Linked DNA regions of Homo sapiens: region 2 is linked to region 1. Evidence: fine-mapped expression QTL. A gene starts in region 1. The other region holds a variant in brackets. All regions are shown on one strand. Distances are from middle to middle.

Region 1 (15,849 bases):
GAGGCTGAGGTGGGAAGATTGTTTGAGCCCAGGAGTTCCAGGCTGTAGTAAGCTATGATTGTGCCACTACACTCCAGCCTGAGCAATAGAGCAAGGCCTTGTTCATAAAAAATAAAAATAATGAAAAGTTTCAGATTAAAAAAATTGTAGTGAATATAGGCTTTCATTTGATAAGGGTATTCATAACTTTCCTCCTAGTTTTTCCCTTTGCTACTGCTAGTTCAAAGGTCTAGAAATAGCCCCAAGTAAATCTCATCTAGTTTCTTTCCTGGTCTATTTCTTATCTTAACGACTCAGCCCCTGAAGACTGGGGACATCCCCTAGTACTAAACAGCCCCATGCTTCAAAGAAGTCACCAGATAATAGAAAAATGGTAGAAAAGAAGCATTTGTTTTTCCTTCTATCACTGCCTCTTACACACTTTAGCTTCTCCATGATCTCCAGCAGGAAGATGGGACCACAGTATGTGAGACTCCCCAGTGATCCATGGATGCTTCCAGATGCATCCTTTGCAGTGTTGTTCCCCTCCCTCATCAACAGAATGTCTTTTTCTTACTTCCAAAAATACTGCACTGCTTTCTTAGAAAAGGAAAAGACCCATGACTCTCCCATCTTCCTTCACTTGATCCAAACTGTAATGTATGCAGCAGGAATTCTGTGACATTTGTATAGTACAGTTGGCATTGTTCCTAATTTAAAGACTTGTCTAAGTTTGTCCCCCAGATAGTATTTATTTGATCTTTCTTTTGAGGGCATTTTGGGGTGACAAACCAGGAATCAGTAATATGTAAGCTTACTCTTATACTTTCATATTCCTTGGTTATCTAAACTTTCTAACTTTTCTTAAATGAATCTATATTATTTGTATAATTTAAAAATACATTTTACTTAAATTTACTTAAAAATATTATTAAATTTCATTTAATAGGACTTTCCAATCAATTAATTCCTACAGTAAATATTTGAACTTACAAAATATTCCAGATGATATTAGCTAAGTTCTAATTATCGGTTTAAATAGAGCCTCCTTTGTTACTTTTACTGTTATTATGATAATTATATCAACCAAGCAGAATGCACCTCTGCTCAGGAAAATTTAGGTGAAAATGATAAGATTAATAAGTTGTTATTCTACCCTGAGGTATTCTTCTTGAGTCTTTTCAATCCAGACTATTATAAACAGGAAAAACATCAGCATTTAGATTAACAGCTGGATTTTGTTTAAAATATTTTCTTAATTATAATCTATTTAATTTTTTGCAGTCTAAGGGAGTTTTGATGTTATTGTTATTGGAGAAAATCTCTTACTTGTGTTTCTTATATGACAATCTTGTGTTTCTGGAATACAGAGCTGAAAAATATGGTGGCAATTGCTCTGGAAAGCTTGTCTTCTTACTTGGCTCTTTCAAATTTTGCACCCAAATAATAATTCTCTTTAGGGGTCAGTCCTGAAAAATATATCAAATCTCACCAAATCATGTAGAAATAGAAGTTCCCCAAACTGGAAGAAGCCTAATAAATCTTATTTCTTCTATCAAGCTGTATATTTGTATCCATTAATCAACCTCTCTTAAAACCCCCAACCCCCGAAGATGTGTTTGTTGATATGATGAACAAATCAAGAGAAAGACAAGATGGTTACAAGATTTGGGGCTTGAATGACTGGACAAAAGAAGGTGTTACTTCCTGAGAGGTGGATCCCTGAGCAAAGAGCTATTTGCAAGAAAAATCAAGAATTCTGTTTGCACATGTAACATTTAAGATTTATCAGACAGGGACAGGCCCTTGAAGGTGTGACGTAGAGGTACAAGAGGGTACAAGAAGGATACAAGAGTCTGGAGTTCAGGTAAGAGGGCAAGACTGGAGATATGAAATTGAATTAAAATCAGAGTGGGAGATTTTAACACACTTCCATCTTAAACGGATAGGTCAAGTAGACAAAAAGTTATTCTTGATAGAGGAGATTTTAATGAGACAATGACATGCACACGGACACACACACATGCACACAAACCATAACCATATAATATGTTGTGCACAACTGGGACACATTTGAGGTAAAAGGGGACATAATAATTACGATTAGGCAGCAGGTATAAACTGGGACAAAGAGTTGCAATGCACACATCCCACGTCTTATACCAGATTCCTACAACAATGTTAGAAATTAATAATAAATAGAATCTTCCTCTCCAAAAAAATTAACAGCACAAGTTTGAAAACTAAAAGTCAAAGTGACAAACAACTGATAATTGTAAGATAAACTCACAATGGAAATTTTGAAATTTTGGAATTAAATGGCAGGGAATATATAGCACATTAAAACCTATGAAAACGTACTAAGGTTTTATTTCTGATAAAACTTTTTGCCTGAAGAATTAGCCATTTAATTCAAAGGGCTAGGAGGCTGGGCACAGTGGCTCATGCCTATAATCTAAGCACTTTGGGAGACCAGAGCAGGAGGATAGCTTAAGGCCAGGAGTTCAAGATCAGCCTGGGAAATATAGGGAGACTCCATCTTTACCAAAAAAAAAAAAAAAAAAATCGGCCGGGCGCGGTGGCTCACGCCTGTAATCTCAGCACTTTGGGAGGCCAAGGCGGGCGGATCATGAGGTCAGGAGACTGTTGAGACCATCCTGGCTAACACGGTGAAACCCTGTCTCTACTAAAAAATACAAGAAATTAGCCTGGCGTGGTGACAAGCGCCTGTAGTCCCAGCTACTCGGGAGGCTGAGGCAGGAGAATGGCCTGAACCCAGGAGGTGGAGCTTGCAGTGAGCCGAGATCGCCCCACTGTGCTCCAGTCTGGGCGACAGAGCAAGACTCTGTCTGGAAAAAAAAAAAAAAAAAAAAATTAAAAATCAGCTGGGCATGGTGGTGCACACCTGTGGTACTAGCTACTTGGGAGGCTGGAGCTGAAGGATCAATTGAGCCCAAGAGTTCCAGGCTGCAGTCAGCTATAATTGCACCACTGCACTCCAGCCTGGAACAACACCCTGTCTCTAAAAAAGGGGGAGGGGGTATTAGAAAAAGATTAACGGAGTAAATCTTTTTTAAAAAGTTGAAAGTGAAAACCTTTACAGAAATTAACAAACTAGAAAGCAAATACACACACAAACAAAACAAGAAAAGCAATAACTAGATTCTTTGCAGCTTTTTTTTTAAAAATAGCAAAATACTGGAAACAATTTCAGTACCTATCAGTAAGAGAATAGGTAAATAAAATGTGGCATGTTACTACAATGAAACAGAACGTTGCCATTTAAATGAATAAACTGAAGCTTCGTGTATCCTTATGAATAAATCTCAAAAGCAATGTTGAGTAACAAAATCAAGTTGCAAAATGATAGGTGCAGTATAATGCCATTTATGTAAAGTTTCAAACACACCAAACAATAATGTTTACTTTTTCTTTTTTTTTTTTTCCTAGATGGATTCTCACTCTCTTACCCAGGCTGGAGTGCAGTGGCACAATCTTGGCTCACTGCAACTTCCTCTTCCAGGGTTCAAGTGATTCTCCTGCCTCAGCCACCCGAGGAGCTGGGATTACAGGCACCCATCACCATGCCCAGCTAGCTTTTCCTGCCTCAGCCTCCCTAGTAGCTGGGACTACAGGCACCCGCCACCACGCCTGGCTAATTTTTTGTATTTTTAGTAGAGATGGGGTTTCACCATGTTGGCCAGGCTGGTCTCGAACTCCTGACCTCAAGTGATCCACCCACCTCGGCCTCCCAAAGTGCTGGGATTACAGGCGTGAGCCACTGCACCTGGCCAATAATGTTTACTTTTATGACTGCACAGAAACTTCCTAAGAGGCAAAAGTTTAGATGAGAAAGATGTCAACTTGAGAAGAATGGCCAGACCCACAGAATGGGAAGAGGATGTTCCTGTCATGGAAAGACACAAAGGAGACTTTAACTACATTTGTCCTATTTTTAATAATATCTGAAGTAAATAAGGCAAGTGTTAAGATGTGTTAAATCTGGATCTTAAGCACCTAAGTGTTTGCTATTTTCTATATGTCTGAATTATTTCATAATTTTTAAAAAATTTGTAAAAGAAAAATTGTGTTGCAATCAAGAGCATACATGAAATAATGTTTATTCTGTGAAATTATTTATCATATACTGTCTACTCCTCCTCCTCCTCCTCCTTCTTCTTCTTCCTCTTATTCTTCTTCCTCTTTCTTCCTCTGAGTCAGGGTCTTACTCCATCGCCCAGGCTAGAGTGCAGTGGCACGATCACAACTCTCTACCACCTCAACCTCCCAGGCCCAAGTGATCCTCCCACCTCAGCCTCCCAAGTAGCTGGGACTACAGGCTCACTCCACCGCGGCTGGGTAATTTTTGTATTTTTTGTAGAGATGGGGTCTTGCCATGTTACTCAGGCTGGTCTTGAACCCTTGGGCTCAAGTGATCTTCCTGCCTCAGCCTCTCAAATAGCTGGGACTACAGGTGCATGCCACCACATGGGCTAATTTTTGATTTTTGTAGAGATGGGGTCTCCCTATGTTATTCAGACTGGTCTCGAACTCCTGGGCTCAAGCGATCCTCCCTCCTCAGCCTCCCAGAGTGCTGAGATTACAGGCATGAGCCACCACACCCAGCCCTTCTGTCTTGTTAAGTATTACAAAATGAAATGTCAGCTGGCCTCCCTCCACAATGGAATGACCTTGCTAGGACTTGACACCACTTCCCACTGCTCCTCTATCTGTTCTTTTGCTTCTCTGCCCTTTCTTCAGAGCACAACGTTTTGGAGAGTATATTGGCCAGATCAACAAAAACAACATTAAAAAGTACTCTGTTTCTGATGTTGAGTAAACATGACATCTTTGGCTGATAAGTTTTTAATTCTATCAACAGCTCAGGTTGAATATATTAAATTTGGGCTCTATCATCAGATTTTACAGCTTGAGAAGGAGGCATCTGATAATATACACAGAAAAGCAGGCCATCTGTCAAACATGAAAGCTACACAGGATGCATTGTGCAGCAGCGGGGCTGCCCCGCTCTACAGCTAAGCAGCAAAGCTCTGCCATGTGGTTCCCATCAAAGACCTCAAATGGGAATTTCACATCATAATCTAAAGAGACGACCCTCGATTAAATGCAGGCCCAACACATATACATGTCAGGATTTGGTAGAGGTATTTCTATTGCATAACATATGTAGTCATTTCTGGTACATAAATTGGATTTTTACAGGCCTGTACAGACTCCACAAAGAACCTTACCTTTTTTTCACACTCTTTCTGACAATACTTTGTATAGATGTTGACATTTATCCTTTGAGTTGCAGTAATTGGGTAGTGTGGCTTTTACATTCCTGTAAGGTGGCTTTGAGATACTAGCAGGGAGGAGCAGGAATGAGCCAAGACCAGCTGGAAAAGAGAACGTACGGGCTCAGTAAGAATGCTTATCATTGTGAGAGTATGGAGATAGGGGAAAGTAGGAAGACCAACAGGGAAAGGGTAGAGGAACAATTAGAGACTCTAATGTTCAAACCTAAGATGCCTCATCCTCAGTGCTCCTGAGACCACCCACTGCTGTGCCCCACCAGCTCAAAAAGAGACACACACCTCAGAATAATGGTCTCCCCCAAATGGTCACATCTGTATCCCCAGAACCAGTGAATCTCACATGGCAAAAGGGATTTTGCAAAATCGATTTAGTTAAGGATCTGGTTTGGCTGTGTCCCCACCCAAATCTCATCTTGAACTGTAGCTTCCATAATTCCCACGTGTTGTAGGAGGGACCCCGTGGGAGATAATTGAATCACAGGGGTGGTTTCCCCCATACTGTTCTCGTGGTACTGAGTAAGTCTCACAAGATCTGATGATTTTATAAGCGGTTTCCCTTTTCACTTGGCACTCTCTCATTCTCTTGTCTGCTGCCATGTAAGACATGCCTTTCACCTTCTGCCGTGATTGTGAGGCCTCCCCAGACATGTGGAACTGTGAGTCCATTAAACCTCTTTTTCTTTATAAATTACCCAGGTATGTCTTTATAAATTACTTTATAAATTACCCAGGTATTTCTTTATAAATTACTCAGGTATGTCTTTATCAGCAGCGTGAGAGTAGACTAATACAGTTAAGGACCTCGAGATGGAGATATTACCCTGGATTATCTGGATAGGGCCAATGTATTCACAAGGGTCCTTGCAAGAGAGGGGCAGGAGGATCTTACTCAGAGAAGGGGATGTGATGACAGAAGCAGAGATTAGAGGAAGAGAGAGATCTGAAGACAGTGCTGCTGGTTTTGAAGCTGGAGGAAGAGACCCTAGCCAAGGAATGTGGGCGGCCTCTAGAAGCCCACAACAGCAAGGAAGTAGACCTTCCCCTTGAGATTCCAGAAAAATGCAGCCCTGTCAACACCTTGATTTTAGAACTTCTAACTTCCTGAACTATAAGACAATACATCTGTGTTGTTTCAAGCCACTAAGTCTGTGGTTACTTGTTTGGTAACAACAGGAAACTAACACATGTCTCCATCCCTGGTGAGAAGTTACTGACTTATGACTCCATTCCCTCAACTCTTGATAGCCCTTCCAGTTCTCAAAGTTCATGTTTCTGTGATTACAAACTAGGGGACCATGTGGAAACGTTGTTCTTTTTTCTTTCAATATGTTGACAGTACATTCCTCTAAACAAATTACGAGTCCTGATTTGAAAGATTCAGAGACAAAAACGCTGGGGCCACAGAAATGAGGTAACTTCACACATGAATTGCAGCTGATAAAAAAAAAAATAGCAGACCTGCACCCACAAGACAAGGTACCACTTCCCTAGAGGGAAGCTCAGCTTCATGCACATCCTCTGTGACCCTCCCTGTATAACCTTGGAATCCACATTCACTTCCAGGAATCCAAGCACTTTCAACTTACGGAGGGAATACCTTTCACTTAAAAGTACTGAAATGGTAATCTTCCCTCATCAATATAAACACACATCTAAGAATCACCAGATAGCTGAGAAAATAACAATGTGAAAAAGAATTAACACATGAGGAAACAGAATTTACAAAGGAAACAAGAGAAGACTGCAAAATAATCATTAGTATCCTCAGAGAAAGGAGAAGCTATCACAACAAGAAAAAGTTTCTTTGAAAAAGTGATCAGAGTGGTTGGAAAATAGAAATGATTGTCATCCCCCAACTCCACAGATAAATCTCAATCTGTGGGCTAAGATACAGAAAGGAAATATGTGAAGATTAAAGTGGCGACCTGGAAATGCAAGCTGAGTGATCCTCCAGGATACAGTGCAAAATAAGAAGTAATAAAGTGATGGGGAAAAGGTTAAGAGACAAAGAAAATAGAGAACACAAGTCCACTGAAACCCTAGCAGAAGTTGTGAGGAGAAACTCATAGCAGATACATCTTACTGAAATTTTTGATGAGAATAAAGAAGTTTTCACTACATGTTCTCACTTATAAGTGGGAGCTGAACAATGAGAGCACATGGACACAGGGAGGGGAACAACACACAATGGGGCCTGCCGGCGGTTGCAGGGCCAGAGAGAGCCCCAGGAAAAATAGTTAATGCATGCTGGGCTTAATACCTAGATGAGGGGTTGACAGGTGCAGCAAACCACCATAGCACACATTTACCTATTAACAAACTTGCACGTCCTGCACATGTATCCCAGAACTTAAAATAAAATAAAAAGAATAAAGAAGTTTTCTTGTTACTGATTTCTATTTTGATTCTGTTAAAGTCTGAAAAAATACTCTGTAAGATTTTATTACTAGAAATGTATTCAGACTTGTTTCATGGCTCAGGATATGATACATTTTGGTGAACATTCCATATGCTTTTAAGAATAATGTGGGCAACATGGTGAGACCTCATCTCTACAAAAAATAAAAATTGTCTGGCATGGTGGTACGCACCTGTATTCCTAGCTACTTGGGAGGCTGAGGCAGGAGGATTGCTTGAGCCCAGGAGTTTGAGACTGCAGTGAGCAATCATCATGCCACTGCAATCTAGCCTAGGCAACAGAGCAAGACCTTGTTTTTAAAAAAAACAAAAAGAAGAATGCATATTTTGCAGCTGTTGAGATAATGTTCTATAAAAGAGGTTTATTATGAGAATTAAGTGGATTAATGTGTGTGAAATGACATAATAACATTGAAATATCTCAATAAGCACTAGCTGTTATTTTGCTATTGAAAAACAGTTTTCTTTTTTTAAAGTAAGATAAAAATAGATATCTGATATTCCATATTTACCCACATATTTACCACTTGGGTGTTCTTCATTGCTTTCTGTAATGAAGTTTCCATCTGTCATTACCGTACCCTGAGCTTTCAGCTTTAGATTTGTAGTGTTGATGAGCTGGCAAAAAAAAAAAAAAAAAAAAATCTCTCAGCTTTCATTGATCACAAAATTTCTTCATTCTCTTTTGAATGATATTCTAGATGGATATGATATTCTGGGCAAGCAAATTTTTTTCATCTCAACACATTTAATATGTTGTTCCATTATCTCTGGGCTCCACTGCTCAAATGAGATATAAGACACCATCTGTATCCTTGTTCCTTTGGCTATTTTCAAAATTTTCTCTCTAGCTTTTGATTTTACCTTCAGTTCACTCATCTTCAGTTCATGCTAGTTTCTTTTGCCATCTCTAGTCTACTGGCTAAACCCACCCAGAAAACATTTCATTTCAGATACAGTACTTTTCATTTCTGGAATTTCCATTTGATTTCTTTTATCCATTTCTCCAATAAAATTATAAGTTTGTTTAGTCATTGTGGTCATTTCCCTTTAAGTCTTTGAAGATGACCATAATAGCTCCTTCCAAGATTTTGTCTGGTAATTCAAATATCTCAGCGTTTGTTTGTCTTGACTATGGATTCCATGTTCTTGTTTGTTCACCTTTCTAGTGAATTTCAATTGTGTAAAAGATTAACCTATGCCATGGTTTGAATGTGTCCCCTAAAGTTCATGTATTGGAAACTTGATCCCCAATGTGGAGGTGGTGGGAGATGGGACCTTTAAGAGGTGTTTAGTTTGTAAAAGCTCTGCCCTCATAAATGGATTAATGCCATTATTGTGAGAGTAGGTTTATTATCACAGGAGTGGGTTTCTTTTCTTTTCTTTTTTTTCTTTTCTTTTTTTTTTTTAGATGGAGTCTCACTCTGTTGCCCAGGCTGGAATGCAGTGGTGTGACCTCAGCTCACTGCAACCTCCGCCTCCTGGGTTCAAGCAATTCTCCTGCCTCATCCTCCTGAGTAGCTGGAATTACAGGTGCATGCCACCATGCCTGGCTAATTTTTGTATTTTTCGTAGAGATGAGGTTTCACCATGTTGGCCGGGCTGGTCTTGAACTCCTGACCTCAGGTGATCTGCCTGCCTCAGCCTCCCAAAGTGCTGGGATTACAGGCATGAGCCACTGCGCCAGCCTAGGAGTGGGTTTCTTATAAAAGGATGAGTTTTGTCCCCTCTTGCTGTCTCTCTCATCCATATGATGTATTCCACCACATTATGATGCATAAGAAGGCCGTCACCAGATGCTAGTACTTTATATTGGACTTCTCGACCTCCAGAACTATAAGCCAATAAATGTCTGTTCATTATAAATTACCCAGTCTGTGGTATTCTGTTTTAGCAGCACAAAATGGACTAAGCCTCTTATGAGCTACTCATCTATTACCAAGGATTATTATTTTTGCCTTTTAGAAAAATACACTACTAACAATGTAATAGTTAGACTGAATGATGGAAGGTCAGATTCAGAGAGATCCATTAGAGAATGTTAATGTTACAGATTACAGTGGTAATGGAGAAGTTCAGGTTTTAACGAAGACCTGAACTAAGGATAAGGAACTCTATTTATGTATGCCAAGATGTGGAAAATAATCTAAATGTCCATTGACAGATGAATGGATAAAGAAAATATATGCAAACAATGAAGTATTATTCAGCCTTAGAAAAGAAGGAAATCCTACAGTATGAGACAACATGGATGAATGTGGAGGACATTACACTATGTGAAATAAGGTAGTCACAGGACAACAAATACTTTTTTAGATGCTTCATATAAGTGGTTCCACTTACATGAAGTATCTAAAAATAGCCAAAGCCAAACCCGTACAGAGAGTAAGAAGACTGGTTGCCAGAGGCTGGCGGCGGGGAGGGGGAAATGGGGAGTTGATATTCATTGGGTATAAAGATTTAGTTATACAAGATGAATAAGTTCCAGACATCTGCTGTACAATTAAATGTCTATAGCTAATACTTAAAAGTTTGTTGAAAGAATAGGTCTCATGTTAAATGCTATTACTACAATTTTTAAAAAGAGAAATGCTAGAAATCAAAAACACTGTAAGAGAAATGAAGAGCCTTTGATGACCTTGTTAGTAGACTGAATATGACTGAGGATAGAATCACTAAGTTTGAGGAAATGTCAATAGAAATATTCAAATTGGAAAAACAGAAAACGAAGAAGTGAGAAAGGAACAGAAGAGATTAAGTGAAGCAATAATCATTGAGAATTTTGCTCAAATAAATGTCAGACACCAAACCACAAATCCAGGAAGCTGAGAGGGCACCAAGCAGGATAAATCTCTCTCTCTCTTTCTTTCTCTTTCTCTTTCTCTTTCTCTCTGTCTCTCTTTCTCTCTCACACACACACACAGACACACACACACACATACCCTACATGTAGGCATATCATATTCAAACTGAAGAAAAATCAAAGATAAAGTGTTTCAAGAAGGCAAAAGAAAAAAAAACACTTTATCTCTAGAGGAGCAAAGATAAGAATTACATGTGATGTCTCCTCAGCAAGTAGGCAAGCAAGAATAGAGTGAAGGGAAGTGTTTAAAGTTTTGAGATAAAAGGCCACCAACCTAGAATACTGTACCCTGAGAAATTATTCAAAAGTGAAGGAGAAATGAACTTTCTCAAACAAACAAAAATCAAATTTGTTGCCAGTAGACCTGCCTTGCAAGAAATGTTGAAGCATGTTCTTCAAAGAGGAGGAAACTGATACAGGTCAGAAACTCAGATCTACATAAAGAAAAGATTAGCACTGGAAAATGAATAAGATATGGTTGGACAAAAACTTTTACTTTTCTTATTACTCAGTTTTCTAACCAATAAATGTTCAAAATAATAATAGAGGCTGGGTGCAGTGGCTAACACCTGTAATTCTAGCACTTTGGAAGGCTGAGGTGGGAGGATCTCTTGAACCCAAGAGTTTGGGACCAGTCTGGGCAACACAATGAGACCCTGTCTCTACAACAACACAAAATTAGCCTGGCATGGTGGTATGCACCTGTAGTGCTACTCAGGAGGTTGAGGCAGGAGGACTGTTTGAGCCCCAGAGGTCAAGGCTGCAGTGAGCCATTATTACAATATTGCACTCCAGCTGGGCAACAGAGCAAGACCCTGCCTCAAAATAATAATAATAATTGAAGGGTATGGTGGTATATGTCTGTGGCCTCAGCTACTTGGGAGGCTAAGAGTGTCACTTAAGCCCAGCAGCTTGAGGCTGCAGTGAGCCATGATCACACCACTGCACTTCAGCCTAGGCAACAGAGTGAGACTCTGTCTCAAAATAAGAATAATAGTAATAAAAACAATGTCTTTTATTATCTATGCTTATATATATATATATGTATGTTTATGTAACTTTACGTATAAGTGATAACTTTAAAAAATGGGCCCATTTCTTTGAAATTTCACAATCTAACAAAACTCACAAAAGAAGAAATACTTTGACTAGGCGTATATCTATTAAAGAAAGTAAATCAATAATTAATAACCTTCCAAAACAGGAAGCACCAGACCCAGATGGGTTCACTGGTGAATCTACCAAATATTGAGGAAGAAATTATGGCAATTTTCTACAATCTCTTCCAAAAGACAGAAGCAGAGGGAATATTTCCTAACTCATTCTATGAGGCCAACATTACCTTAATACGAAAACTAGATGAAGACATTATTAAGAAAGAAGACTACAGATCAATATCTCTCATGAACAAAAATCCCCAATAAAATATTAACAAAAAGAATGCAACAATGTATAAAAAGATTACACACTATGACCAAGTGAGATTTATCTAAGGTGTGCAAGGTAGTTTCAACATTCAAAAATTAATTAGTGTAATTCCATCACACCAATAGGCTGAAGAAAAATTACATGATCACACAAATAGATGCAGAAAAAGCATTTAATAAAATCCTACATGCATTCATGATAAACCATTCAGAAAACTAGTAATAGAAGGAAACTTCTCAACTTGATAAGAAGAAATCTCCAAAAACCTACAGCTAACATCATAGTTAATAGCAAGAAACTAGAAGTTTTCCCACTAAAATCATGAAAAAGGTAAGGCTCTCCTCTCACTACTCCTTTTCAACATCATACTGGTAGTCCTAGTTAATACAATGAGACCAGAAAAGGAAATAAAATGTATACAGATTGAGAAAGAAGAAATAAAACTATGGTTGTTTTCAGATGACATGATTGTATATGTAGAAAATCTGAATGAATTGACAAAAAAAAAACCGCCTAGAACTAATAAGAAATTATAGCAAGGTTACAGGATACAGGCTAACATACAAATGTCAATCATGTCTCAGTGGTATAGTGGTGAGCAGAGCTGCCTTCCAAATATCAACCATTTTCCTATATAACAGCAAGGAACATGTGGAATTTGAAATTAAAAACACATTATTACTCACATTAGCACCACCAAAAATGAAATACTTAGCTGTAAATCTAACAAAATCTGTATAATATCTATATGAGAGAAACTACAGAATTCTGTGAAAGAAATCAAAGAACAAAATAAATGGAGAGATATTCCATGTTCATGGATACAAAAAAATTAATGGTTTCAAAATGTCAGTTTTTCTAACTTGATCTATAAATCTAATACAATTCCAAAATCCCAAAGGCAAAAGACCCAGAAGGGCCTTCTCAATATTGAAGAACAAAGTCAGAGGATGGCCACTATCTGACTTGAAGACTTTGATCTTTGACAAAAGAATAAAGGCAATACAATGAAGCAAAGAAAGTCTTTTCAAGAAATGTTGCTGGAACAATTGGAAATCCACATGCAAAAGAAAGTCAATCTAGATAGACATAACACCCCTAACTAACTTAACTGAAAATGGATTATAAACCTAAATGTAAAATGCAAAACTATAAAACTTCTAGAAGCTAATACAGGGGAAAACCTAGATGACCTTGGGATGGCGACGACTTTATAAATTCAATACCTAAGGCATGATCCATGAAAGAAATAATTGGTAAGCTGGACTTCATTAAAATTAAATTTTCTTCTCTGCAGAAGACAAGTCAATAGAATAAAAAGAAAAGCTACAGATTGGGAAATAATATTTGCAAAAGACATTATCAGATAAAGAACTGTTATTCAAAATACACAAAGAACTCTTAAAACTCAACAATAAGAAGGCAAATAACCCAACTAAAAAAGACTTTAACTGACGACTCACCAAAGAAGACACAAGAATGGTAAATAAGCATATAAAAAGATGCTCAACAACATATGTCACTAGAGAATTGCAAATTAAAACAACAACAAGCTAACACGACACATCTATTTGAATTGCCAAAACCCAAAATGCTGACAACATCATATGCTGGTGAGGATGTGAAGCAACTGGAATTAGCATTCATTGCTAGTGGGCATGCAAAAAGCCACTTTGTAAAAGCTTGGCAGTCTCAGGGATTCTCCCAAATGAATTGAGAACTTACATCCATGCAAAAACCTGTATGCACAAGTTCATGACAGCTTTATTTATGATTGCCAAAACTTGGAAGCAAATAAGATGTCCCTCAGTAGATGAGCAGAAATACAAATGGGTATAGACAGAGAATAAAATGTTCTTCAGTGCTAAAATAGAAGTGAATGATTTAAGTCACTAAAAGACATGGGGGAAACTTAGTGCATATTACTAAGTGAAATAAGCCAATCTGAAAATCCTACATATTGTAATGATTTCAATTATACAACATTCAGGAAAAGGCAAAACTATGGATATGATAAAAATATCAGTGATTGGCCAGGCATGGTGGCTCATGCCTATAATCCCAGCACTTTGGGAGGCCAAGGTGGGCGGATCATGAGGTCAGGAGATCGAAGGCATCCTGGCCAACCTGGTGAAACCCTGCCTCTACCAAAAAAAAAAAAAAAAACAAAAATTAGCCAGGCGTGGTGGGGTATGCCTGTAGTCCCAGCTACTCAGGACACTGAGGTAGGAGAATGGCTTGAACCTGGGAGGCGGAGGTTGTAGTGAGCCGAGATCTTGCCACTGCACTTCAGCCTGGTGACAGAGCAAGACTCTGTCTCAAAAAAATATATATATACATATATATATATATATATATATATATATATATATATATATATATATACACACACACACACACACACACACATATATATATATACACATATATATATATATATATATACACATATATATATATATATATATATATATATATATAATCAGTGATTGCCAGGTCTTAAAGGAGAGGGTGGGATGAATAGACACAGATAATTTTTTTTTTGAGATGGAGTTTCATTCTTGTTGCCCTGGCTGGACTGCAATGGCACAATCTCAGCTCACTGAAACCTCTGCCTCCTGGGTTCAAGCGATTCTCCTGCCTCAGCCTCCTGAGTAGCTGGGATTACAGGCCCCCACCACCATGCCCGGCTAATTTTGTATCTTTAGTAGAGACAGGGTTTCACCTTGTTGGTCAGGCTGGTTTCGAACTCCTGACCTCGGGTGATCTGCCTGCCTCAGCCTCCCAAAGTTCTGGGATTACAGGCGTGAGCCACCACGCCCAGCCCACAGAGAATTTTAGGGCAGTAAAACTACTCTGTATGATACCACAATGGTAGATACATGTCATTGAACACTTGTCAAAACTCACAGAATGTACAACACCGAGAGTGAACTCTAATGTAAACTATGGACTTTGTTGATAATCACGCATCTCTATAGGTTCATTGATGGTAACAAAGGCACTTCTCTGGTGTAGGTTGTTGATAATGGAGAGGCTGTGCATGTGTGATGGCAGAGGATATATGGGAATTCTGTTCTTCCTGATCAATTTTGCTGTAAACAAGAAACTACTCTAAAAACAGTCTATTTGTGAAAAAGTACAGAATGGAATTAATCACTCTAGGAGAAAAATTAAGAAAATAGAAACAACAACAATAAAAATGTAGACTATCACTAGAACCAAGATTTTTGAAGTGGTAAGTGTGATCAATAATGTTAGCAGAGGCCAGGCACGGTGGCTCATGCCTGTAATCCCAGCACTTTGGGAGGCGAGGCAGGCGGATCAGTAGGTCAAGAGATTGAGACCATCCTGGCCAACATGGTGAAACCCTGTCTCGACTAAAAACACAAAAATTAGCTGGGAGTGGTGGCGCACACCTGTAGTCCCAGCTACTCGGGAGGCTGAGGCAGGAGAACCGCTTGAACCCGGGAGGCAGAGGTGGCAGTGAGCTGAGATCGCGCCACTGCACTGCAGCCTGGTGAAAGAGCAAGACTCCGTCTCAAAAAAAAAAAAAAAAAAAGAATGTTAGCAGAAAAAGGGCTTCTGAACGTTCTAAAAATGACTTTAACATTACAGACATATACTTAGATCAAGTATGTCTATCATTACTCATCCAGAATAGCGTAATTTAAGCAAAGAAAGGCAGAGAAAGAGGGACAGTGCCAGGTTCTGATGAAGAATACAATGAAAGGATTGTCTTATAATTTGAAACATTTGGAGAAGGAAGCCTATTAGAATTAAATGTATTCAATATATTAGAGTCAAAATCATCAAACAATTTAGTTTTAAAAGTTTGATGGA
Region 2 (15,849 bases), 150 kb before region 1:
TAAGTACCTTACATCTCTGACAGCATGCAATTCTGTGCAATGCACAGAGAGACAAGGAAGCCCACAGTTTATAGAAAGTCATAGCTAAATGCACACCGCAATGTCTCTATTAGAACAGAACTTGGGCTCTGAGCCACAAGACAGGGACATTGCAAAGGAGCATTGGGGAGCATGGCACCAGTAAACCTCCCTGGTGACAGGTAAAGGACTCTGCCCAGTGGGGGTGTTGGGCTCTGACCATGGGGTAGGAGGCCAAGAGGGTAGATGTCACGTGTTTACATCTGGCAATGCTTGCCTTATGTCGTGTGTCATTTTTAGGAGATCTCTCCCAAGATTATAGAAGTATGCTATATTTTAACTTTTCTGATAATTTTTATCAGAAGTATATTTTCTGACATTTTTATTATTTTAAGTACATGTTATATACTTATAATCTACCTACAATTTATTTTTGTAAATTATATGAGATCATGATCAGACTACTTTTTTCTCCACCAAATGAACAGCCAATTGTCCCAACACATTTTACTGAATATTTCTACCTTTCCTTATTGATTTGAAATACTACCCCCATTATATACTGACTTCCTTTATATGTATGCCTATTTCTGGACTCTATTGTATTCTATCAAACTTAAACATATATTAATAGCATGACATTTGATTTCCTTTTTATTTTAAGTTCTGGGATACATGTGCAGGATGTGAAGATTTGTTACATAGGTTAACGTGTGCCGTGGTGGTTTGCTGCACCTGTCAACCCCTCACCTAGGTATTAAGCCCAACATGCTTTAGCTATTTTTCCTGATGCTTTCCCTCCCCTTGATCTCCCCATGACAGGCCCTAGTGTGTGTTGTTACCCTCCCTATGTCCACATGTTCTCATTATTCAGCTCCCACTTATAAGAGAGAACATGCTGTGTTTGGTTTTCTGTTCCTGCATTAGTTTGCCAAGGCTAATGGCTTCCAGCTCCATGCGTGTCCCTGCAAAGGACATTATCGCATTTCTTTTTATGGGTGCATAGTATTCCATGGTGTATATGTACCACATTTCCTTTATCCAGTCTATCATTGATGGGCATTTGGGTTGGTTCCATGTGTTTCCTATTGTGAACAGAATAGCGTACCATTTTCATGAGTGTAGTTTTATTGTCCATTTTGATGTATGACAGGGTATGTCTACTTCCATTTTTTTTTTTCAAAATATTCTCATCTAGGTCCTTGAATTTATTGTTCTAGTAGAACTTTAAGTTTGATAATTCTATTTTAAAAACTCTTGTTAGAAGTTAATTTGGGATTTCATTGACTTTAAATGTTAGTTTGGAGAATATTTTTGTCCATGATATTTATATCAAATCTTCCCACTGAGGGCATGGCAGATTTCTCCATTTATTCTGGTCATCTTTTTAGTTTTTACAGTTTTCCTTACGTAGGGTTGGGATATTTCTCATTAGGTTAATTTCTGGATTTTTATTTGTTGTTCTTATTGTTTCTATTGCAGATGAGTTCTTTTCAATAATAGCTATAATGGATATACGGGAAAGCTGTTGCATTTTGTATATTTTTCTTATATCTAGTTCCATTGTTCAAGTACACAAGTATCTCATCTTCAGATAGTAAGTTTTGTGTATTTACTCTCCTTCTCTTTCCCTTCCTTCCTCTCTCCATTTATTGCATCATGTTGGCCAGGTCCTACAAAACATCATTGACTCACAGCAGTAATAACACACATTAATGAGAATTTGTCTCATATTTTACCATAGAGTATAATGTTTGCAGAAGGTTTCTGGTGTAATCACTTTATTGAGTTAAGGCATTCTCTTTCCATTCCTAGATTATTTAATAAGATATCTCCCCAACCACACACTTAACTGAATAGGTCATTGCATTTACAACAAACTGCTGTATCTATAGTTTTTAAGATTGTCATCTAGTTGTCCTCTTTTAATCTATTTAAGTTATTTACAGTAGTACATTTCCTAATGCTTAATCATCCTTGAATTCTTGGGAAAGTTTTTATTCCATATCAATATAATATTCTTTTAATATATTTCTGGATTCACTTTATTAACATTATTTAATAATTTTGCATCAAAATTCTTAACTGAGATTTGTCTTTAGCTTTCTTTTTTTTTTTCCTAATGGTCTCCTTGCACAGTTTTAGTATTAGAGTTATGTTAGGCTTATTGAATGAGCTGGAATGTATTTTATCTTTTTCTATGCTAGGAAATTTTAAATAAAGTTAGCATTAACTCTTCCTGATGCCTTGAAAGTTTAAAAGAATTCACTTGTGAAAGGATCTTAGCCTGAGATTCCTTGGTTCTCTACTTTTCCTCTTATGTTTCTCATCTTTCTCCTCCATTTTCTGAACAGTTTTAGCTTTATCTTCTAGATTATTATTAATAATTTGGTCTTTAACTTTTCCCCCATTCATACTTTAATCAACTTTTTCTCTCTCTCTCTCTTTTTTTTTTTTTTTTTGAGACTCTGTTGCCCAGGCTGGAGTGCAGTGGCACAATCATAGCTCACATCAGCCTCAAACTCCTGGGCTCAAACAATCCTCCTACCTTGGGCCTCGAGAGTAGCTGGGATTACAGGCATGTGCCACCATGCCCAGCTAATTTTAAAATTTTTTTTGTTGAGATGGGAGTCTTACTATGTTGCCCAGGCTGCTCTCAAACTCATGGCCTCAAGCAGTCCTGCTACCTTGGTCTTCCAAAGTTCTGAGATTGACAGATGGGAGCCAACATGCCTGGCCCTATAAATCAATTTTCCTACTGCAGTTTTTCTTTTAAGTTTGGTGTCTTATTTTTATTCTCCAAGAACATCTTTTTTTTCTTATCACTACTTTGTCATAGCAGCTATGATCCCTGTAGAGATCAGAAGTTACTAGAATCTCTACTCTGTACCTCTTAATGGCCTTAAAGCCTTTTCTAGGAACCCCCCTTAGACAGGTCCCCTAACCTATTTAAAGAGCATTTGTAGCAGCTTTATGCTGCGGTTAGATGACCCAGAAAGCTCTCTGTGGACTCAGAGAGGAAGAAGAGGTATGCCCTAGCTCTTCTGACAGCTGTCTCGTAACTGATAATTTTCTTGATTCCCCTGGTAGGCTACTTATTCTTTGTGAACTGTGCACTTGGAACATCTGTGCCCTGTTGGGAGAAGCAGCTCACACTCTCCACGGTCTTGCCCTCCACCTGTTTTGAGTTGTGGTTCCCAGTTTGGATTTCCCCACCAACTTGATGCCATATGTATTTTCCTTTCCATGAATTTCTCAACTTTTCTGACTTGGCAATGGTACCTTTTATTGTTTTTGAGCCCCATTAAGCATGTATTTGTTTTCAAATTTACATTTTGCAATTTAATGAGATTTCGAGAGAGAAATTAATAAAGCTTATTCAGTACCCCCTCTTAAAGGGTAATTCTATAACACAGACTTTTAGCAAATGATTTTATGGTAAAAGATGTTTTCCTTACTTCTGAGAGTTTTTATGGAGAATTTGCACACATTCAAAGTTAAGCATAGATTCTGAATATCAACGAATAATAAATACAGAGTAACTGTGCACACAATGGAGCAGTGGGAATTGTTGCAACATTCCTGGTAGGTTTCATGTACAAAAACATGATGCATTGTGATAGGTAAGACTTCCTGAACTATGGTGCTTGAATAAAGAGATAAATATAATTTAGTTAAATAAAAAAAGCCATAATTATAATAATATGATATATTATTACTTGGCAGTTGTGCACCTAATCTGTACTGTACTTTTGAAATGTGACTGGAGTCCAAGTGGATACTATTTTACTATGTCGTTAAGCTTGTAGCACACTAGACCTGACTTTTCTTTTTGTCTTTCCAGTGGAAAACTTAGGTTCTTTGAGTGAGGACTCCTGGGATTTTTTAAAGTAAAAACAAGGAGCTAAGAATTCCACTCCTTCTTGCCAATATTTCCTTCAAGCAAAATTATTGATTAATGGAAAATTAAATATCATATGCTTCATATTGCTTTTTTACCCTTTTGTACTTGGGTTATTTTAATAATTTTCGCTAGCGCTACAAATGTAATTGACTAAAATTATACATCAAAATAAAACAAAACCATGGGAGGGAAAAGATTATCATATTTTGAAAACATATCAATAAAGTACATATTTAAATTTGCATATTTGGCTTATTGTGAAAATGTCAAAATAGTTTTGCTTTCCTCTAATACCTTCATTATTATTTCTTCTTTTTCTTCTTCTTCTTCTTAGTAATAATACAGTGTATTGTCTTTGCTTAGCGCTTTAGATTCTTCGTTGGTTTGTTTGACTGTGAATGAGATGACTGAGTATTTCACCATACTTCTATGTCCCTGAGCAGTGGTGAACTGACCACAGAATATTTTTCTGTGAGTTTTCTTTCTTCCTTCAGGAATAAGGTTGATTGTTCATCTGTCACCAGGAGGAAACTATGATGCTTACACAGTAACGAATTTAAAATAAGCCACTGTTCCCAAGATCTTTCCAAGAGCAGCAAGCTTTCAGTGGAGTAACTAATATTTCTAGAGTCCTTTGTTTGCAGGGCACTTATCATCATTGTGTTAGGCAGTCCCTGTTATGCTGCATGGGTCTTTCCCTGAATTATAGAGCTAGTTCTCTGGTTCATCCTTTAAGGTGCTAAAATCACGCTGATGAGGTCGAGTTTTACATGTTATCACTAGTTGATCTCGCCACTGGGCAAAAATCATAAACAGCAAATATCCAGACCTAATTTCTAGCTAACAATTGCAGCATACTCCTCCACCAGGCTTTCCCTGGGAATAGGGGAATTTGAAGGGTTTTCTTTTCCAATGTTTCTGTATATCCTGTTGGAGATGCTGATGGGCAATGTCATCTCCACACACATATTCTACGAACATATTAAGTGAAACCTCTGCAGCTAAGAAGGGCAAGAGAAATGCCAGACGTCCAGCCTGAGATCATGGTACCTACATGGCCAGGAACAGACAGCTTGCATGCAGCAGTCAGGAATGTAGTATGTGGTTTCTGAATTCATTAACAATGTCAAGTTGAAAACTGATGACTACAGTTATAAATCAGAGAACAGTTTTTAATGCATATGTATTAGTTTTCTCTTGCTGCATAACAAATCATCACAAATTTTGTAGCTTTAAACAGCACCCATTTATGAGCCCAAAGTTCTGGAAGTCGGAAGTCTGGCATGGCATAGCTAGGTTCTCTGCTCAGGGTCTCACCAGGATGACATCAAGGTGTCATTCTGGGCTCTAAGAGAGAACCCACGTACAAGCTTATCCAGGCCAATGACACAGCTCATTTCCCTGTGGCTATAGGACTGAGACCCACATTTCCTTGCCTCTCAATTTCTAGAGGCTGCCCAACTCCCTTCCTTGTGGCCTCCTGGCACTTTCAAACCAACACCCACATGTTGAGTCTTTCTCAGGCTTGAACCTCTCTGACTTCTCCCCCTGCCTTCCCCCAGGAAAAAGCTCTGCATTTAAGGGTTCATGTAATTACCTCAAGCCCATCCAGATAATCTTCCTATTTAAGGTCAACTGATTGATCATCTTAATTACATCTGTATAGTTCCTTTTAACATGGAACGTAACATATTCACAGATGTAATACCAGGTTGAAAAGTCATGAGGGCAAAATTCTTCCTACCCCAGCATAGATCATGTGGCAGCGGGATTTGGGTAAGGTTTGGCCCGTACAACCACAAATGTTTAGACAATTAACATTATGATGAGTGTGAGCTTATAAAGTACAAAAAAATGTACCGCTTTAAATGCTTTTGGTATGGCTAATCTATAAATGGAGTAATCAAATCCTGTCTAAGTAAGTTAGTTGAAATTTACATAATTATTTACATATGAGCACAGAAAACACGTGTTCTCTTTATCCATTCAGTCAATCTTGCTTTCCTTAAGGTTACTTGTATTTTATCTCATAACATAAAGTAGGCATTTTCACATGCAGGCCAGCATCAGGCAATTGACAGTGTGCTTTTTTTTTTTTTTGCTTTTTTTTTTTTGAGACAGAGTCTGACTCTGTCACCCAGGCTGAAGTGCAGTGGCATGATCATGACTGACTGCAGCCTCATCCTCCCGGGCTTAGGTGATCCTCCCACCTCAGCCTCCCTAGTAGCCTGACAATGTGCTTCTAAGGTAGCTGGCTAGATTATTCCCCATGGCATGATGAATGTTTATCACACATAATAATGGCTGCTATTTATCAAGCATTTCCTATGTGCCTGGCATTGTGCTATGTGCTACACTTGCATGTATTATTTTAGTTAGTCCTTACAATAACTCTGTGATGTACATATTACTATCCTTATTTTAAGGATGAGGGAACAGACTTAAATAGCAGAATGTGCCCATATAAGCTGAGATGTTGCAGAACCATGATTCGAATTCATATCTGTTTGACTCTAAAACCTTCTTCAGCACTATCTTTTACTTTTTCCCAATCCTGGGAAAAGATGGCAGTTTATTTTTGAGAGATCCTTAGACCTGCTTTTATGTCTTCCTCTACCTTTTTTTCCCACTATGCCCAGAGCAACCTATGTCTTTATGCTATGCCCAGCCCCCAGCCCATCCCATAGGTCCTCTGTCTGCCCTTCGATCTTCTGGAGTAAGTGGTTTTCCATCTGTCAATCGAGAATGGCAGGCTCTCATCTCAGGCAGCTGACGTCAGTAAAGTATGAAAGGAGCACCATCAAAATAGCTTATACCAGGGCATAATAATGACAAAAATAGCTAGGGATCCCTGTGCCAGGCACTGCACTAAGTGCCCTACATGTATTTTCTTACTCAAGCCTCATAATACCCCATGAAGTAGGTACCTTATTATCCTCATTTCCCACAGGGTATTTTGAAGGCAGAATTTCTAAATCTCTGAGGGGATTAACAGTGTGAGAGAGTTTGCAGGGAGAGTCCTTGGCTTCTCCAGGCCATCCTAATCCTTTCCTCATTCTAGAAGATTAGGATCAGCCACGTAGCACCCTCATCTTCAGTAACAACTTTCAGTCTAAAATTTATTTCATCCCTCCTTCGTCTTACTTCAGATCCTTTCTCCCGGAGTGCCACTGTGAGCATTTGAGGCTGGAGAGAATGCCATTAGGACCAAGCCTTCTCTGTAGCACAGGCCGGTGGCATTTTGGTCTTAGAATCCCAGGAGAGAACACTGAACATCTCTGTAGAGAGGAGAGGGACTCCAGCAACATAACACAGTGTCCAGGGCAAAGCAAGCGTCTGCCTGCAGCAATTCTCCTGAGAGCCATGGAGGCCAAAACTATGATAAAGGAAAGTACAGCAATTGCATGGAACAAGGGTTACAGGCTCCTTATTAGTGGGGAGAGCTGCTCCTTTGAAAGGGACAGCAAGTCTGTTAAGAAAACAAGACTGCAGTCAAGTTCCTTCCTATGGCCTAAAGATCTGAGTGGCCTCAGAATGCCAAAGGCAGGAAAGGAAGAGAGACCCTGCCTGGGGTCTAGGGTCCAGGCCCTCAGTCACTGCCCCTGCCTGTAGATTCGACTTACACCCTTTACTTCACATCACTCTGTAAATCCACAGAAAATAAAGTTGCACCTTGATTTTCAGAATAGATACATTCCAAAAACAAAAGGTTTACATCTAATCAAGGTTTAAGGACAGAGCAGACACTTGGTGTTTTAAACTAATCTTGCCATAAATCGTTTTGTTATATGTACAGCATAAGTCAACTTCTGTTTCATAAGTTTAGGTTCTAAGATACTGAGTTTTTCTTACATTTCATGTTAACCAGAAATATCAGCTTCCTTTGGTTGAGTCTGTCATTGTGTC[G/A]GCAGTAACGGCTATTAAAATATTGCATCCTGGTTGTAAAATATAACTGAAATCACTGGAAAATATAATACTAAGTGGGCAAACTGTGACTACCATAGTTTCGAAACCACAAAAATGTTGTCTTGATGAGGGAGTACATACTCTGTTTTTGATCACCTTGTATTAATGAAGATTGTTACTTTAAGAGAATAATTAATTTTAAAAAATGTCAAGCGCTTTCTCTAACAATGGGACTCAATGACATTCCTTTAAAACAACTTTCACTTTTAATCTATCATTAAAGCCAAAGGTTTTTTTAAATTTTAAAAGCTTGTCCTTGAACTAAAATAACATGGAACATTTTAAAACATGGCTCCAAGCTGCTCTACATACATTTTATTTAAACCACAGAGACTGCAGTTAGATTTCTCAGTGCCAGACAGACTACAAATTATAACTGTAGCAGAAGCGACTGTGAATTTCTGGATGTTGTAGTACCAGCGAGCCTGGTTGCTTTTTGGAGCTGTTCCTCCCTTTGGGCTCCACTCATGAATGACTTAATCCCTGTGTCAGATCAAATGTCATGCCTGTTGCCATGCAGAGAAAAAGCAAGCAAAGCCTCTTTTTTTTTTTTTTTTTTTTGGTCTTTGCACAAATTTGCTGTACTCGCCTACAGAGGAGCAGGTGAGAAGTAAGAAAAGTCACAAAATAGAAGTTGTAAAGTGAGGCTAGAACACAGTGAAACTCCAAATGTTGAATGTATGATGAAAATATCATCTAAAGCAGAACGCCATTGTTTATCATGGCAAGAAGAGGGCAATAACATCCATGGTATCCACGGTTGAATTGTAAAAATATTTTTACTAAGGTCATTTTTGTACTTACTATTCTGGTATTAGATTAGCAAATCTAATGCCAGATTAGATCTAATAATACCGTATATTGTGTTGCACTGTGTACTGTAGAAAGTACCTGAACATCTGTTATTTTATTTGATCCTCATTATAACTCTATGAGGTAAAAATAAGGATAATTATTCCTGCTTTCATGCAGGGTGGGAGGGAGTGATCATCTCTTGCACAGCTACTTAATGGCAGAGCCAGAAAGAAAATTTAAGTCTCTAAGCTCCTGGTTCAGGCTCTTTCCACTTGATTTTACTGTGTTTTCCATCCTGGTTAAGTCAACTCAAAATAAAAAAATCATTTACGGAATAGAACTCTCTAAAGCAGTCACTCTTAACTTCCTTTTGTACATGGACTGCTTTAAAAATTGGGTAAAAAGCCTTGCATCCTTCTTCAGAAAAATGCACATCCACCCCCTTAAACCCACACAAACACATAGACACTGTTGTGTAGCCCAGATGGCAACAAGGGTATCTCTGATCCTTTTGATCTAAATAGCAATCCCTTAAATACTTGATTGCACACTATGGAAGGTCAGACACTTCTGAAGATTTCTAGAGATGCCCAAGGGCTCCATCTTCTAAGCATATGGTATATTTGGTGCTTGGGTCGTGTTGCCATTCCACATATGTGCTCCCTGTTCCTCATCGCGTGGATTCAGATGTGAAATATACTCCCTTCCTCAAACGCCAGAAGATCCCCACTCTCGGAAAGCTTGTGCACGTGGTACAGTTGAAGGAAGATTCAGAGGGAGTGAAGGAGGACCTTCCATCACAGCAATTCATATGACTTTATTATTGTTGTTTTTTTTTAGAGACAGGGCCTTGCTCTGTCATCCAGGCTGCAGTGCAATGGCATGATCATGGCTCACTGCCACCTTGAGCTCTGGGGCTCAAGCCGTCCCCCCACCTCAGCTTCTCTAGTAGCTAGGACCACAGGCACTCACCACTGCACCTTGCTAACATTTTATTTGTAGAGACGGGGTCTTGTCGTGTTTTGTCTCAAACTCCTGGCCTCAAGAAATCCTCCCACCTCTGCATCCCAAAGTGTTGGGATGACAGGCCTGAGCCACTGTGCCTGGGCACAGCAGTTTATATGATTTCCTACAGAGCACTACTTGTCTTCATTCTTTAGTGCCCTTTGGCCACCCCGACATGGGACTCTTCCTTGCCTGCTTCACCTCCCAGGGTCTCCAGCCTCACAGCACCTCACTGGTTCTACTCTTCCCCCTCCCACCTTTTCCTTTTACCTCCTAATCCCCAGTTGCCTCAAAATCCCATGTTCTTTACCTGTAGTGTAACCCAGGTCTCTCCTGCTTCAACTCCCAAACTCTGTTCCATGCTCAGACCACTTACTGAGATGCTAAGCGAACTTAAGGGGCTTTCTAGGTCCCCTTCACCTTCCTTATAAGGCGTTTGGGACATTAAATGGTAGTGTATTTTCTTCATGCACACCTGTTTATAATTGTAGGAGTTTCAAGGATTCCCTAAAACATCATCCCCCTGGCTTTAGAATCCCATTCGAAGACAGCAATGGGAATGTCTGGGCTTCTTGGATCTGTGAGTTTAGAGCTTTTTTCAGGTTCCTTTTTGGAGCAGAGTTGATGATTAGGGACAGAGCGCTCTTTTGACCACTCCAGAGCTGTATCCAAGCCAGGACAGCTGGTGTGGGGCACCACGGGATCCCATGCTTATGGCCCTGCCCGTCTCCTTCACCTGGCCAATCTAGAAGCAGAGGTTGGTATGGAAACTTCTAGGAAAAAAGAAAACAGGTCAGTTGATCCAACAAAAATCTACCTTGGTTCATGCTTATCAGTCTACCTGCTTCTTGTCCTTTATGGGAAATGATACCTGTTTTATAAGAAAAAGTGAAGGATGAACACAGTTGTTCATGCCTGTAATCCCAGCACCCAAGAGCAGGAGGATTGCTTGAGGCTAGGAGTTCAAGACCAGTCTGGGCAACATACCGAGACCCCATTTCTATTAAAAAAAAAAAAAGAGTTTTAAAAATTAGCTGAGCACGGCGGTGGGCGCCTGTAGTTTCGGCTACTGGGGAGGGATTGAGGCAGCAGGGTCACTTGAGCCCAGGAGTTCGAAGCTGCAGTAAGCTATGACTGTGCGACTGCGCTCCAGCCTGGACAATAAAGCAAGACCCAGAAAAAAAAAGAAAAAAAGAAAGAAAGAAAAGAGAACAAAAGAAAGAAAGAAAAAGGAAGGAAGGAAGGAAGGAAGGAAGGAAGGAAGGAAGGAAAGAAGAGAGAGAGAGAGAAAGAAAGAAAGAAAGAAAGAAAGAAAGAAAGAAAGAAAGAAAGAAAGAAAGAGAAAAGAAAGAAAGAAAGAAGGAAAGAAGGAAAGGAAGAAAGAAAAGAAAAAAGTGACAATTATGAAATAAGAATAGATAATGACATAAAATAGCATTTTAAGAGTAGATAGTGCTTTTAGGAAAGAAATGTTTTAAAATATTAATGTATTTTTAATTTGATTCAAATATGAAGCTATGTTATTCTGAGAGATGCATTCTTTTCCCAGTGATGAAGCTTCTCTTCTTGTTGGTGGTCTGTGACTTTAAAGCACTGTTGCCTGGGATTTATCTCTGTTTCCAGGGTATTCTAGCACATCTAGTTTTATTCATACCTGTGATGGATAGTACAAAAAAATTATTATCATCTTACTTGAAAAGTAATGATATGATTGGGCTAAGATTGAACACGTTTCTAAAGGAAACTCTTGCCAGTCCAATAATATGACTTATAAATATAATTGGTAAGCACAAATGTTTACAAACAAAAACTGGCTGAGCACAGTGGCTTACGGCTGTAATCCCAGCACTTTGAGAGGCCGAGGCAGGCAGATCACTTGAGGTCAGGAGTTTGAGACCAGCCTGGCCAACATGGTGAAACCCCATCTCTACTAAAAATACAAAAATTAGCCCATATGTAGTGACTCATGCCTCTAATCCCAGCTACTTGGAGGCTGAGGCACAAGAATCACTTGAACCTAGGAGGTGGAAGTTGCAGTGAGCCCAGATCATACCACTGCACTCCAGATTGGGTGACAGAGCAAGACTTTATCTCAATCAATCAATAAATAAAAATAAAAAATTAAAAACTAGCAGAAATATGGAGTTAGAGATAGACCAGAAATGGAATTAGACCCATTGCCAATTCTGCAGTTGTGTGGAAAAGGTAGAAATTCTCAAACTGGGAATTGGCCCTGCCCATGCTGCCCCCAGAGGAGGAGTCCCTTCTGGGCCTTAGGCTTTAGCTTACTCTCTGATTGATCTATTGGAGGACATTGGGGAGTGTGTCCCTCTCATGCTAATGCAGAAACTAAAGATGAGCTGGTGAGAGGGGGAATCCAGTCCTTGTGACCAGTCAGTAGTGAATCCAGAATAAGAAGTTACTTTAAACCAGGGATCAAGAATAGGAAGCAAAGTATGTGGCCACAAATCAAGCCCTAGCTCATCTTCAACTTTTTCATTGCAGGACAATTCTAGGAATCTCTGCTTCCACAGGAATGCTATAGGAAACTATGGCATCTCTGAACTTCTGAGGCATCCTCAGGATTCACTATGTCACTATGAAATTTAAGGAACAGCCCACAGAGTGGTTCACTTGTTCATTCTGCCTAGAGAGCCCTTAGAATTGTGCTGTCTGATATGGTAGCCAATAGCCACATGAGGCAACCCAGCATGTGAAATATGACTAGTCCAAATTGAGATATGTTTAAATATATGAGAAAAGAAAGCATGGAAAATATCTCATTGATAATTTCTATACTAATTACATGTTAAAATGATACTATTTTGTATATATTGGGTTAAATAAAATATTTTATTAAAAATACTTTCACTTTTTCTTTCTACTGTAAGTGCATCTACTAGAACATGTTAAATGACTTATGTGGTTTGCATGTAGCTCACATTATAATTCTATTGACAGCACTGCCTTAGAGTCACGGGGCTTCCCAAATGGTGGTGGTGGTGGGAGGAAATTTATGGAAAGGGCTTTTATTATAACTCATATTAAAGAAGAGGCATCGAGAGGGAAGTCAGAGTTTAATTTGGCTTAAAACTGGCTAGTATCCCTTTCATCCCACTCCAGAGGGGCACAGGATCTTCATCTTCAGGAAGCCCTGCTGTCTTCATGGCCACTCACACATGTGGAACAGAGCCACATCCTCAGATCAGCTCACCCTTGTTTTGCTATTGTTACCAGTCCTACCAGAAATCAGTGCGAAGAACTGGTTTGTTCGCCTCATTAAATGTTGACTACCCTACAGTACAGTCATCCCTCTGTATCTTGGGAGGCTTGGTTCCAGGAACTTACCCTACTTCTGCCACCAATACCAAAATCCACAGATGCTCAAGTCTCTTATGTAAAATGGCATAGTATTTGCATGTGACCTGCACGCATCCCCCTGTATCCTTTAAATCATCTCTAGATCACTTATAGTACCTAATACAATGTAAATGCTATGGAAATAGTTGCTATTTTTAATTTGTATTTTTTTGTATTATAAACTGTATTTTTTATCTGTATTTTTTGTTGTATTGTTGTTTATTTATTTACTTTTTTCTTTTGAGACAGAGTCTCGCTTTGTCACCCAGGCTGGAGTGCAGTGGCACAATTTCAGCTCACTGCAACATCCACCTCCCAGATTCAAGTGATTCTCCTGCCTCAGCCTCCCAAGTAGCTGGGATTACAGGCAGCCACCACCATGCCCAGCTAATTTTTTTATCTTTAGTACAGACGGGGTTTCACCATGCTGGCCAGGCTGGTCTCGAACTCCTGACCTCAGGTGATTCACCTGCCTCAGCCTCCCAAAGTGCTAGGATTACAGGCGTGAGCCACTGCACCCAACCGGTATTGCTGCTTTTTATTGTTTATTTTTTTCCAAATATTTTTCGATTCACTGTTGGTTGGATCTGCAGATGCAGACATGGAGTTCCAACTGTATAGATTTGTCTCATTCATCCCTGGTACTCGACATATTATCTGGCAATAGTCGTTTTTTTTTTTTTGAAAAGAAGTCTCGCTCTGTCACCCAGGCTGGAGTGCAGTGGCATCATCCTGGCTCACTGCAACCTCTGCCTCCCGGTTCAAGTGATTCTCTTGCCTCAGCCTCCCAAGTAGCTGAGACTAGAGGCGCACGCCACCACGCTCAGCTAATTTTTTTATTTTAAAGGAGATGGGGTTTCACCATGTTGGTCAGAATGGTCTCGATCTCCTGACCTCGTGATCTGCCCACCTCGGCCTCCCAAAGTGCTGAGATTACAGCCATGAGCAACCGCGCCCGGCCTATAGTCAATTTTTTGATGCATTAAAGAAATAGAAAATGTATAGATGAATAAATGAACAAATACATTAATGGTGCACAATAAACCATTATTAATTTCTGTGGGCTTAGGTATACGGGAGAAGGCCTTGTGATGGTCAGTGAGCTAAACCAGGGAAAAAAAAGTGTGAAGTGAGAAGTAAAGTACTTTTTACAAGGGGTGAGATACTTGCCAGGATGCACCAGTTGTCGCTCTGAGTTCTCTACGGCCAGCATCTCTTGTGATTGTTTGGTGTGAATGCCATACTGGCTGTTAAATATTTCAATATTCTATGGTTGGAAGGATTTCTTAGTTTTTTTTAAATTAAATCAACTAAGAGAAGTAACAGTTTCCTTCTTTAAGAACAAAATGTAGAAGAACGTTATTTAGAAAATGTATAAAGGTTACCATCTCCCACTCTCCCACTATTTTAAGGATACAAAGTTGGCTTTGGTTTAACCTGCTCACTTCTGATAGAATAATGCAGAGACCTGTTTACCTTCATCTACACTTGTGTGACATTAAGTCACTGTACTTTCAAACAGAAGCATTTTTGTTTAGAGGATATAAGCTTCCATTTAGAAAAATATGCTTTTTAAAAAATAAAATTCCCTTAAAAACACAAATGGATTAGCTAGAGGAACATTTCAGTTTGGGTGGAAGGAAAGTTCTATTTTATTTTCATTTTTCTTTGAAATTCAAAACTTATTAAGTTAGCTTTGCAGAATTAACCCATACTTAGTGCCAATAGATGCTAAGTGTTGCCGCCAGTAACTGTCAGAGAGGATGCAGCAGTGTGGACGCAGGGCGGCAAGCCTGGAAGAGGCTGAATTTTTATGTTGCTTTTATTAATACCTCCCCTTTCCACAGCAGTGCTGGGTTCCCGCGTCCTCATGTTGCCTCCTAATTACCCAGGACCACGACCTTGGGCATTACAGACCTGATTTCTTTAAGAGATACCCACACCCACTATTTTTTCCTGGGTTACCTTACCCAAGGCCAACTTCCCAAGTTAGGCACAGTAGCATGGTGCCCAGGACCCATGAAAATATTTCAATTTCGTTTTTTTAATCAAAAGAAAAATGAATGCAATAATAATGAATACATCATAAGCCTGGATTATATGCACCTATAGACCAATGCATTTGTAAAATATCATTTTTAATTTTTTTTATGTAGGAAAGAGTGCACCAAAGCACAAGTACCTAGAGCTGATGAAAGTCATAATGCAGTCCTGATCCCACTTTTTTAACCCCCTGGGGCACATCTTTTTGCTTTCCAAAGGGACTGCTATTTTGTCACCTGACAGTTTAGCATCCTAATAACACGCTGTATGCTAAAGTATTAAATTAATCTCTCCCCATCAGTTCATCAATCTGTTAACAAATAATCATTGAGAATCCTTTCTTCTGTGAGTTGGGGCTGACGCGGTGACCATGACGAACAGTGCTTTGTGGTAGATGAGCATAGAACAAGGAAGTGTGCAAAATGCCACACAGAAATACAGGGTGCATACAGCACGGGACAGAGAGATCTCATCTAAATACATCTTTAAAATATTTAACTGTTATTATATTCTTACAGAGATTCTTTATGGATTTAAGAGCAAGTATAAATATAGATACTTCTTTTCCCCTCTTTTATATCAAAGGTAGGCCATTCAACTCAACAACAAAAAAAGAAACACCTCAATTAAAATGAGCAAAGGGCTTGAATAGACATTTTTCCAAAGAAGATATACAAATAGTTAATAAGCACATGAAAAGATGCTCAGCATTACCAATCATTAGAGAAATGCAGATGAAAACTACAATGATATACCAC

Evidence for each region. PIP is the estimated chance that this variant, and not a neighbour inherited with it, causes the effect.
Region 2: its variant is fine-mapped to the expression of LINC02680 in whole blood (TOPMed, PIP 0.91).

Annotation. Positions count from the first base shown.
Region 1 is chr10:27,559,316-27,575,164 of GRCh38, reverse strand. LINC02680 (long intergenic non-protein coding RNA 2680) reads right to left here and starts at 8,978. Exons shown (of 3, transcript XR_007062094.1): 1 at 8,228-8,978; 2 at 5,232-5,378.
Region 2 is chr10:27,706,610-27,722,458 of GRCh38, reverse strand. All of the region lies in intron 5 of MKX (mohawk homeobox), which reads left to right. Among named protein-coding and RNA genes, the nearest start is that of MKX-AS1, 30 kb to the left of the region's middle. The variant G/A (reference allele first, on the strand shown) is at 7,829.